2 linked regions of the Homo sapiens genome follow. The protein of the gene in region 2 purifies or fractionates together with the protein of the main gene of each other region. This does not show direct contact. Each region holds a gene or a part of one and is shown on either strand. Other genes may lie near its edges.

Region 1 (5,274 bases), on a different chromosome or scaffold from region 2:
AACCCAAAACCCTTTACCCAGTAACTTTCAACATTTCAGTGTAAATTCTTCTAGGCTTTTACCCTGCAGATAAACACACGCATGCACACACAGACACACACACACACACACACAAACTTAAGCCTTACACAATTATCGTGGTTTGTTACTTGTTGGGTGTTTTGACAGTGTCAGGTTTGTATAACTCAATATTTACCAATATTTTCTAATAATTTAATGTTTTCTTCTTATATTTGATTTTCAAGTATTTATTTTTAACCCAATTGGACTGTATTTTAGAGTAAGATGTGAACTATAGAGCTAGATTCATTTATTTATTTCAATTAGTAGACATTTTTAGAGCAGTTTTAGGTTTACAGAAGAATTGAGGACGGAGTGCAGAGTTCCCATATTCTCAGTCTGTCCCTTCCTGCGCGCTTTCTCCTATTTTTCTTTCTATTCTTTTCCTTTCTTTTTTTTTTTTTCTTTTTTTTTTTTTTTGAGACAGGGTCTCACTTTGTTGCCCAGGCTGGAGTGCAGTGGCACAAACACAGCTTACTGCAGCTTTGAACTCCTGGGCTCAAGTGATTCTCATGCCTCAGCCTCCCAAGTAGCTGGGACTACAGGCATGCACAACCACGCCTGGCTAATTTAAAAATTTTTTTGTAGAGATGGGTCTCACTTTGTTGCCCAAGCTGGCCTTGAACTCAAGGGCTCAAGTGATCCTCTGCCTTGGCCTCCCAAAGTGCTGGGATTACAGGCATGAACCACTAGGCCTGGCCTCCCCTATTTTTAACATCATGCATTGATAGGATATTTTTGTTACAGCTTTTTTCTTTTTGAAACAGTCTTGCTCTGTTGCCTAGGCTGGAGTGCAGTGGCACAATCTCAGCTCACTACAGTTTCTGCCTCCCAGGTTCAAGCAATTCTTGGGCCTCAGCCTCTCGAGTAGCTGGGATTACAGGTGCACCACCATGCCCAGCTAATTATTGTATTTTTATAATAGTAGAGACAGGGTTTTACCATGTTAGCCAGGCTGCTTTTGAACTCCTGGCCTCAAGTGATCAGCCCGCCTTGGCCTCCCAAAGTGCTGGGATTACAGGTGTGAGCCACCAGGCCTGGCCAATTTTGTTATACTTGGTGAGCCAATATCGATGCAATGTTATTAATGAAAGTCCATAATTTACATTAGAATTCCCTCTTGGTGTTGTACCTTCTATGGTTTTGGACAAACATATAATGATGAGTATCCAGTGTTACAGTATCATAGAGAATAGTTTCACTGCCCTAAAACTCTCCTGTGCTCTACCCATCCACCCCCCAACCCCCCTACCTATCCCTGGCAACCACTGGTTACTGCCTTTGTAGTTTTGCCTTTTCCAGAATGTCATATAGTATGTATGAATCATATGGTATATAGCCTTTCCAGACTGGCTTCTTTCGCTTAGCAAAATGCATTTAAGCATCCTCCATGTCTTTCTGTGACTTGGTAACCCATTTCTTTTTATCATTGACTAATATTCTGTTGTATGGATGTGGAGGTACCACAGTTTATTTCTCCATTCACATACTACAGGATATCTTGGTTGCTTCCAAGTTTTAGCAGTGAATAAAGCTGCTATCAACATTTGTGTGCAGGTTTTTGTGTGGACATTAGTTTTCTTCTCCTTTGAGTAAATATCAAGAGCGATTGATGGATCACATGGTAAAAGTATGTTTCGTGTTATAAAAAACTACCAAACCTTTTTCCATAGTGGTGGCATAATTTTTCATTTCTACCAGTAATAAATAAGAGTTCCTGTTGCTCCACAGCCTCATCAGCATTTGTTGTCAGTGCTCTTAATTTAACTCTTCTAATACGCATATAGTAGTATCTCATTGTTATATTTTAATTTGCAATCTGTAATGACTTACAGTGTTGAGCATCTTTTTAAATGCTTCTCTGCCATCTGTATATCTTCTTTTGTGAATGTCGGTTAATTTACTTGGCCCATTTTAAAATTGGGTTGTTTGTTTTACTGTTGAGTTTTAATAGTTCTTTGTATATTTTGGATAACAGTGCTTTACCAGATATGTCTTCTCTCCCCAACCATGGCTTGTCTTTTCATTCTCTTAACAGTGTCTTTTGCAGAGCAGAAGTTTTAAATTTTAATAAGGTCTAATGTACCATTTTTTTTCCTCCATGAATTGTGCTGTTGTTGTTGTATCTAAAAAGTCAAATCCAAGTTTTGGCAGTTACAAATAAAGATGCTGTAAACATCAGTGTACAGATATTTGTGTGATTTTTGTGCAATGCAGATTTTCTCCATTGTCTTGCCTTTGTCTCTTTGTCAAAGTTCAGTTGACTGTATTGATGTGAGTTTACTTCTGGGCTCTCTATTCTGTTCAATTGATCTATCTGACTATTCTTTTGCCAATACCGTACTGTCTTGATTACTGTAGCTTTATAGTAAAGTCTTGGGGACAGGCAGTATCGGTCCTCTAACTTCGTTCTCCTTCAATATTGTGTTGACTATCCCAGGTCTTTTGTCTCTCCAAATAAACTTGAGAATCAGTTTGTTGATATCCACAAATAACTGCTGGGGTTTTGATTGGGATTGCATTGAATCTATAGATAAAGTCGGAAAGAACTGACATCTGGACAGTATAGAGTTTCCCTACCCATGAACATGTACTATCTCTTCATTTATTTATACATATTTTTATGTTTTCATCAGTTATGGTTATTCTCACATAGATTTTGACCTATTTTAGGTTTATGTATAAATAATTCACTTTTTGGTGCTAATGTAAATGGTTTTGTGTTTTTAATCTCAAATTTCAATTGTTTATTGCTAGTATATAAGAAAGTAATCAATTTTTGTATATTAACCATGACTTTACATCCAGCAACTTTGGCAGAATAACTTATTATTTCCAGTTTTCTGTTGCTTTGTTGGCATTTTCCACATAGCCAATTATGTTTTTTGAGAACAAGAACAGTTTATTTCTTCCTTCCCAATCTGTAGACTTTTCATTTTCTTTTCTTTTCTAATTACATTAGCCAGCACTTCCAGTATAATGTTGACTAGGAAGGGTGAAAGGGAACATCCTTGCCTTATTTCTGATCTTAGGGGAAAAGCTTCTAGTTTCTCTCCATTAAGTATGATGTTAGCTGTAGGTTTTTCATAGATCTTCTTTATCAAGTTAAGTTCCCATTTATTACTAGCTTGCTGAAAGCTCTTATCATAAATGAATGTTAGATTCTTGTCAAATGCATTTTCTGGATCTATTGATGTGATCATATAATTCTTCCTTAGCCTATTCATGCGATGGATTACATTAATTGATTTTCAAATGTTTAACCTAGAATAAATCCCATGTGGTGGTTATGTATAATTCTTTTTAAACATTGTTGGATTCAATTGCTGATTTTTTTGAGGATTTTAACATCTATGTTTATGAGAAATATTGATCTGTTAGTTTCCTTTCTTGTAATGTTTCTGGTTTTGGTACCAGGGTAATTCTGACCCAAGAAAATTAGAGAATTTCCTCTACTTCTATTTTTTGAAAGAGATCATAGAGAATTGGCATAATTTCTTTCTTAAATGTTTAGTCATATTCATTAACCCTAGTGCTTTCTATTTTGGAAGGCTACTGGCTCCAGTTCTTTAATCAGTATAGGCCTATTCAGATTATCTATTTCTCTTTGTGTGAGTTTTGGAACGTTGTACTTTCAAGGGATTGTTTCATTTCATTTAACTTACCAAATTTGTTGATATAGAGTTGTTCATACTAGTATTTTATTATCCTTTTAATGACCGTAGGATCAGTATTGATGGCCCTTCTTTCATTTTTGATATTAGTAATTTGAGTCTTCTCTCTTTTTCTTCTTAGTTAACCTGGCTAGAGGTGTCTCAGTTTTATTCATCTTTTCAAGGAACCAGCTTTAGGTTTTGTTGATTTTCTCTATTGACAGCATGTTTTCAATTTCACAAGTTCTGCTGTAATTTTTATTATTTCCTTTCTTCTGTTTATTTTGGATTTAATTTGCTCTTCTTTTTCTAGTTTCCTAATTTGGAAACTTGCTTTTAGCTCTTTCTTCTTTAATAATATATGCATTCAGTGCTCTAAATTTCCCTCTAAACACTACTTTAGCAGCATCCCATAAATTTTGATGTTATATTTTCATTTTAATTTAGTTTGAAATATTTTAAATTTTTTCTTGAGAGTTATTCTTTGATTTGTTTACATGTTGTTTAGAAGTGTGTCATTTAGTTTCCATTTTTTTAATGTTTTTCAGATATCTTTCTGTTATTGATTTCTAGTGATTCTGTTGTGATCTCAGTAATCTCCATCATAGAAGTCATTGATATTTGTTGTTGTATGTTTTATGGCACAGAATGTGGTCTGTCTTGATGAATATTCCATGTGAACTTGAGAAGAATGTGTATTCTGTTGTTGTTGGGTGAAGTATTCTCTAAATGCCAATTAGATACACTTAATTGATGGTGCTGTTCAACTATGTCCTTACTGATTTCCAGCCTGCTGGATCTATCAGTTAGTGGGTACTGGCCAGGCACGGTGGCTTACGCCTGTAATACCAGCACTTTGGGAGGCCGAGGTGGGCAGATCACCTGAGGTCAGGAGTGCGAGACCAGCCTGACCAACATGGAGGCTCTACTAAAAATACAAAATTAGCCGGACGTGGTGGTGCATGCCTGTAATCCTAGCTACTCGGGCGGCTGAGGCAGGGGAATTGCTTGAACCCGGGAGGCGGAGGTTGCAGTGAGCCGAGATCGTGCCACTGCACTCCAGCCTGGGCAACAAGAGTGAAACTCCGCCCCCCCAAAAAAAACGTTAGTGGGGACTGACAGAGAGGTGTTGATGTCTCCAACTGTAATAATAGTGGATTCATCTATTTCTCCTTAAAATTCTGTCAGTTTTTGCTTTACACATTTTAGCACTGTTGTTAGGCACATACATATTAAGGAGTATTATGTCTGCTGGGATAATTGACTCCTTTACCATTATGTAGTGCTTCTCTTTATTCCTAATAATTTTCCTTTCTCTGAAGTCTGCTTTATCTGAAGTTAATAGAACTACTCCATATTTCTTTTGATTAGTGGTAGCACGGTATATCTTTCTCCATCCCTTTATTTGTAACCTATCTGGTTTTTATGTTGAAATGGGTTTGTTGTAGACAACATATAGTTAGGTCACGATTCTTTATTCACTCTAGATAGTCACATGTTTTAATTGGTATATTTACACCATTGATATTTGAAGTGATTTTTTGATATAGTTGGATTAATA
Region 2 (5,274 bases):
GAATAGAGGCCATTTGTAGATAGTGATGCAGTGTTTGCCAAATAAGGTTAGCAACCTTTCCGTTTGCATGGAGACTTGTTACTGAATTAAATACTTGTTTCTCTGCATGCTGTTACTTACATAGTTCATTTGCATTTTATTTGCTTAGCTCTAGTTAAATTAGAATGATATATTCCAGCATTAGTTTATCATGCTTGTGTTTTATTTTGTAATAAAAATTCCATATCCAATCATTTGACTGTCACTAACTTGTACTCTTTTTTTCATAATACTTGTAGCAACTCTTCTGACCTCTGGGACTACTGCAACAGTAGCCCTATTGCGAGATGGTATTGAACTGGTTGTAGCCAGTGTTGGGGACAGCCGGGCTATTTTGTGTAGAAAAGGAAAACCCATGAAGCTGACCATTGACCATACTCCAGAAAGAAAAGATGAAAAAGAAAGGTACTACCACCACTGATCCATCATATCATTCTATGTGGATGATGTTTTTAGTTCATAATAGTTTTTAAACTGATGTCATGGTTAAGTTTAACAGTGACTTGGTTTTCTTTTTGTTTTTTTGAGACAGAGTCTCACTCTGTCGCCCAGGCTGGAGTGCAGTGGCGCAATCTTGGCTCACTGCAAGCTCCACCTCCCGGGTTCACACCATTCTCCTGCTTCAGCCTCCTGAGTAGCTGGGACTACAGGCGCCTGCCAACACGCTCGGCTAATTTTTTGTTTTTTAGTAGAGACGGGGTTTCACCGTGTTAGCCAGGATGGTCTCGATCTCCTGACCTCGTGATCTGCCCTCCTTGGCCTCCCAAAGGGTTTTCTACATATCACACCATTGTCATTTAACTTTTAACAGGATCAAGAAATGTGGTGGTTTTGTAGCTTGGAATAGTTTGGGGCAGCCTCACGTAAATGGCAGGCTTGCAATGACAAGAAGTATTGGAGATTTGGACCTTAAGACCAGTGGTGTCATAGCAGAACCTGAAACTAAGAGGATTAAGGTAAGAAAGGACCTGCAAACACTTGATAAACCTGCGGAGAGTGAATGTAGGATTGTCTCTGCTGCACCTTTCTTGGAAGCCTTAACTGAAGCCAAAATGATTTTTAAAAGGGAGTAATTTATGGAAGGATAAAAAAACTTTTCAGGTAAAATAAGATGCTACTATTCTGGCCTAATTTATTGTAGAGGACAAAACAATTCTCTTTTTCCCCCTTTTTAGGTTCTTAGTTGAGACACTTTCTTGAAAATAAAAGTCAGATTAACTACAACAACAACAAACAAACAAGCAGACATTTGCACGTGCTGAACCCATTGTACGGGAAAGGCCTCAGTTAAAAGTATTTCTCTTCCAAGGCAGTGGCTTAGGGGCTTTGCTTAAATTGTATTTAAATAGCCATAGATCCTGCATAGTGACAAGATAAAGAAGAGAACAGTTTCAGTCTTTTAAAAGTCAGGAAAATGTGGAGAGATAGTAAAACCTGTTCCCAGATTTCTCTGGTGCCTGCTGGTTCCTTCTCTGGGCCAATAAACAAGTGCTGTCTCCAGTAAAGAAGGACTGATGTCCTGCCACCAGGCAAGTAGAGGCTGAGGAAGTGTACCCCTGCCTTTTCAGTGACTTGACTTTAGCAATCCTCAATATTTCGGGGAGAAATATTTTGGCTTCCCTCAGTTTGAAGTGTTAGGTTTTTGTTTCACCCCAGCTATGGAATTCTCCTGGTGAAATGGTCCTGCTGTTCTTCCTCACCTGCACCCAATCAGCCAGCATCACCTGCACTCAATCATGCAGCATCACCTGCACCCAGTCATCCAGCATCACCTGCACACAATCAGCATCACCTGCATCCAATCAGCCAGCATCACCTGCACCCAAGCAATCAGCATCACCTGCACCCAGTCAGCCAGCATCACCTGCACCCAATCAGCCAGCATCACCCACACCCAATCAGCCAGCATCATCTGCACCCAATCAGCCAGCATCACCTGCACCCAATCAATCAGCATCACTTGCACCCAATCAGCCAGCATCATCTGCACCCAATCAGCCAGCATCACCCGCACCCAATCAGCCAGCATCACCTGCACCCAATCAGCATCACCTGCATCCAATCAGCATCACCTGCACCCAATCAGCATCACCTGCATCCAGTCAGCCAGCATCACCTGCACCCAATCAACCAGCATCACCTGCACCCAATCAGCATCACCTGCATCCAATCAGCATCACCTGCACCCAATCAGCAGCACCTGCACCCAGTCAACCAGCACCACCTGCACCCAATCAGCATCACCTGCACACAGCCAGCATCACCTGCACCCAATCAGCCAACATCACCTGCACCCAATCAGCCAACATCGCCTGCACCCAGTCATCTAGCATCACCTGCACCCAGTCATCCAGCATCACCTGCACCCAATCGGCCAGCATCACTTGCATCCAGTCAGCCAGCATCACCTGCACCCAATCAGCATCACCTGCACCCAATCAGCTAACACCTGCACCCAATCAGCCAGCATCACCTGCACCCAATCAGCCAGCATCACCTGCACCCAATCAGCATCACCTGCACCCAATCAGCCAACATCACCTGCACCCAGTCAGCCAGCATCACCTGCACCCAATCAGCTAGCATCACCTGCACGCAGTCAATCAGCATCACCTGCACCCAATCAGCATCACCTGCACCCATTCAGCCAGCATCACCTGCACCCAATCAGCATCACCTGCACCCAATCAGCCAGCAACACCTGCACCCAGCCAGCATCACCTGCACCCAATCAATCAGCATCACCTGCACCCAATCAGCCAGCATCACCTCCACTTGGAAGCTGCCCCAACTTCCCTTTTCCACCAAGCCAAATAATCGCCCACCTCTACTTCTGTGGCATCCTTTGCATGCTACTAATCAGTGTCTTCATTGTCCTGAACTGCCCCCCAACACACACCCAGTCCATGAGCTGACAGTTCTCTAAAACTCCTGAGCCACTATAGTCTCTAGCACAGTATAGTGTAGGCTTCCAAAACTGGCAGCAAACACTTGTTAATTAATTGCATGAAGGGTTTCAAGTCTATAGATATCCCACATCGTGTGTTATAGATATCCCACTTCATTTTATCTAACAGATACTTAGGCAGAGTTTACTATGTGCTGGGCTCTGTTCAAAATAAGTACTACTATCCCCATTTTTCAAGGAAAATCTAAAGCATACAGAGGTCAATGCACCTCTGCTCACCCAGCCAGATAATAGAGGCAGGATTCAAATCCTAGAAGCCTGCTCTTAGAGACAGCACTCATAACCATTACATTGAGCTACCTCTCACCATTGGGCTATCTGGATTCTCCCTTTGTGATGTTAAATTATGGAATTAAATCAAGATATCTTGAAGGGTGTTTGCTAAATTGTTAGGCGTGATTACCTCTGGTGATGGGATTTCAGAGGATTGCAACTTCTTTACTCTTTACTTTTAACTACTATTTATATTTTACTAACTAAATATTAGCTTTATCCTTGCTGGTTAATTCTAAATGTTACTACTTTTGCCCAACAGGTAGGCTTTACATTTTCACTGTTTGCCTATGTATTGGTCTGTTCTCACACTGCTAATAAAGATATACTTGAGACTGGGTAATTTATAAAGGAAAGAGGTTTAATGGGCTCACAGTTCCACATGGCTGGAGAGGCCACACAATCATGGTGGAAGGTGAAAGAGGAGCAAAGTCATGTCTTATATGGTGGCAGGCAAGAGAGCATGTGCAGGGGAACTACCCTTTATAAAACCATCAGATCTTGTGAGACTTCACTATTATGAAAACGGCATGGGAAAGACCCACCGCCATGATTCAGTTACCTCCTACCAGGTCCCTCCCACAACACATGGGAATTATGGTAGCTATAATTCAATATGAGATTTGGGTGGGGACACAGCCAAACCATATCAGCTTACAAGCTGTTACACAGATGACCGCTTAGCAAAACAGGTAAAATCTTTGAATTAGCGAGATTGTGCTAAGGCAGAGTCTAGCTTATAATCATAGGCATTTGGTTCTGATTGCAGTTACATCATGCTGATGACAGCTTCCTGGTCCTCACCACAGATGGAATTAACTTCATGGTGAATAGTCAAGAGATTTGTGACTTTGTCAATCAGTGCCATGATCCCAACGAAGCAGCCCATGCGGTGACTGAACAGGTGACCCAGAGCTTCTGCCTGAAAAGTCCCAAGGAGAAGGAAGGAAAGGACAGTCCAGGCATTGTGTTTTAGCTTTTGAGTGTTGCAGTGAATTTTACACTTGATTCCATAATATTTCCAATTATAAAATTTTTATTTCCCCAAGTTAAAATTTTAATATGCCAAGGAAATGTGCTTTGTTTATTCTTTGGCTTTGTATATACCTTGAAATGATAGTAACAGCAATAGTAAATTATAATAGTAAACTAATATTCACTTGCTATGTGTCAGACAATATTCATATGTATTAGCTCATTACTGTATGTATTGTACAGTATGTACAGTTACATATATTGTAATCATCACAATAACCCTATTAGGTTGGAGCTATTATTGTCCTTTTTCACAGATGAGGAAAACAGGTACAGAGGCTACAGAGTTAATCACTGAAGGTCATAAAACTATTAAATTGCAGAACTGGACTTCAAACCCAGACAACTAGGTTCCCAAGTCCAACCACTTGACCGTTAAACTAGAGTGCTCCAAGCAAATATCCAATTTGAAGATATAGCATAGTCACCTTCTGGTTATTCAGAATGGGTGTGTGGAGAAGATAAACCAAAATACCAAAAGGCATAGGGATGAGGTTGTGTGTCAGTCAGAACTAAAATTAAAAGAAAGCTGGGTAATATCCAGTAAAGAAAACATAAACTATGCTTCGTATTATTTAAAATATTAGAGGCATGTTTTAATTCAACAGCTATTTTTGCATTTCCCAAATTAAGATAATAGACCTTACTTTAAAAGTATTATTTGCTTAGATGGGCAAACATGATTATAATATATGAATTATTCATTTGGTTACTGCCTTCACCCGTGCTAAACAGGGTATTCATGAAATTGAGGAAATAGGCCCAATTTCATGGATGAACACTTCTTTCCTAATTTCAGCTGCCTGTCTTGCAGATATTTGCATTCTAATTCACAAAGGTAATGAAATTTGTAATGAATGCATAGTGTTCCATTTTATTCTTATACATAATTCATTTAACAGTTCCTCTGGTCAAGAAATTTAGTTTATGTTTATTTTTTCCATTCTATAGAGGAAGCC

The links.
Region 1: the proteins of PPM1K (region 2) and ALDH1L1 purify together in Homo sapiens (co-immunoprecipitation; one large-scale study listed by IntAct). This does not show direct contact.

Annotation. Positions count from the first base shown.
Region 1 is NC_000003.12:126,173,587-126,178,860, reverse strand, and holds part of ALDH1L1 (cytosolic 10-formyltetrahydrofolate dehydrogenase), read left to right. Parts: intron 1-5,274. UniProt on the Homo sapiens protein: Cytosolic 10-formyltetrahydrofolate dehydrogenase that catalyzes the NADP(+)-dependent conversion of 10-formyltetrahydrofolate to tetrahydrofolate and carbon dioxide.
Region 2 is NC_000004.12:88,263,911-88,269,184, reverse strand, and holds part of PPM1K (protein phosphatase Mn(2+)-dependent 1K), read left to right. Parts: intron 1-278; coding exon 279-444; intron 445-850; coding exon 851-995; intron 996-4,049; coding exon 4,050-4,184; intron 4,185-5,274. UniProt on the Homo sapiens protein: Serine/threonine-protein phosphatase component of macronutrients metabolism.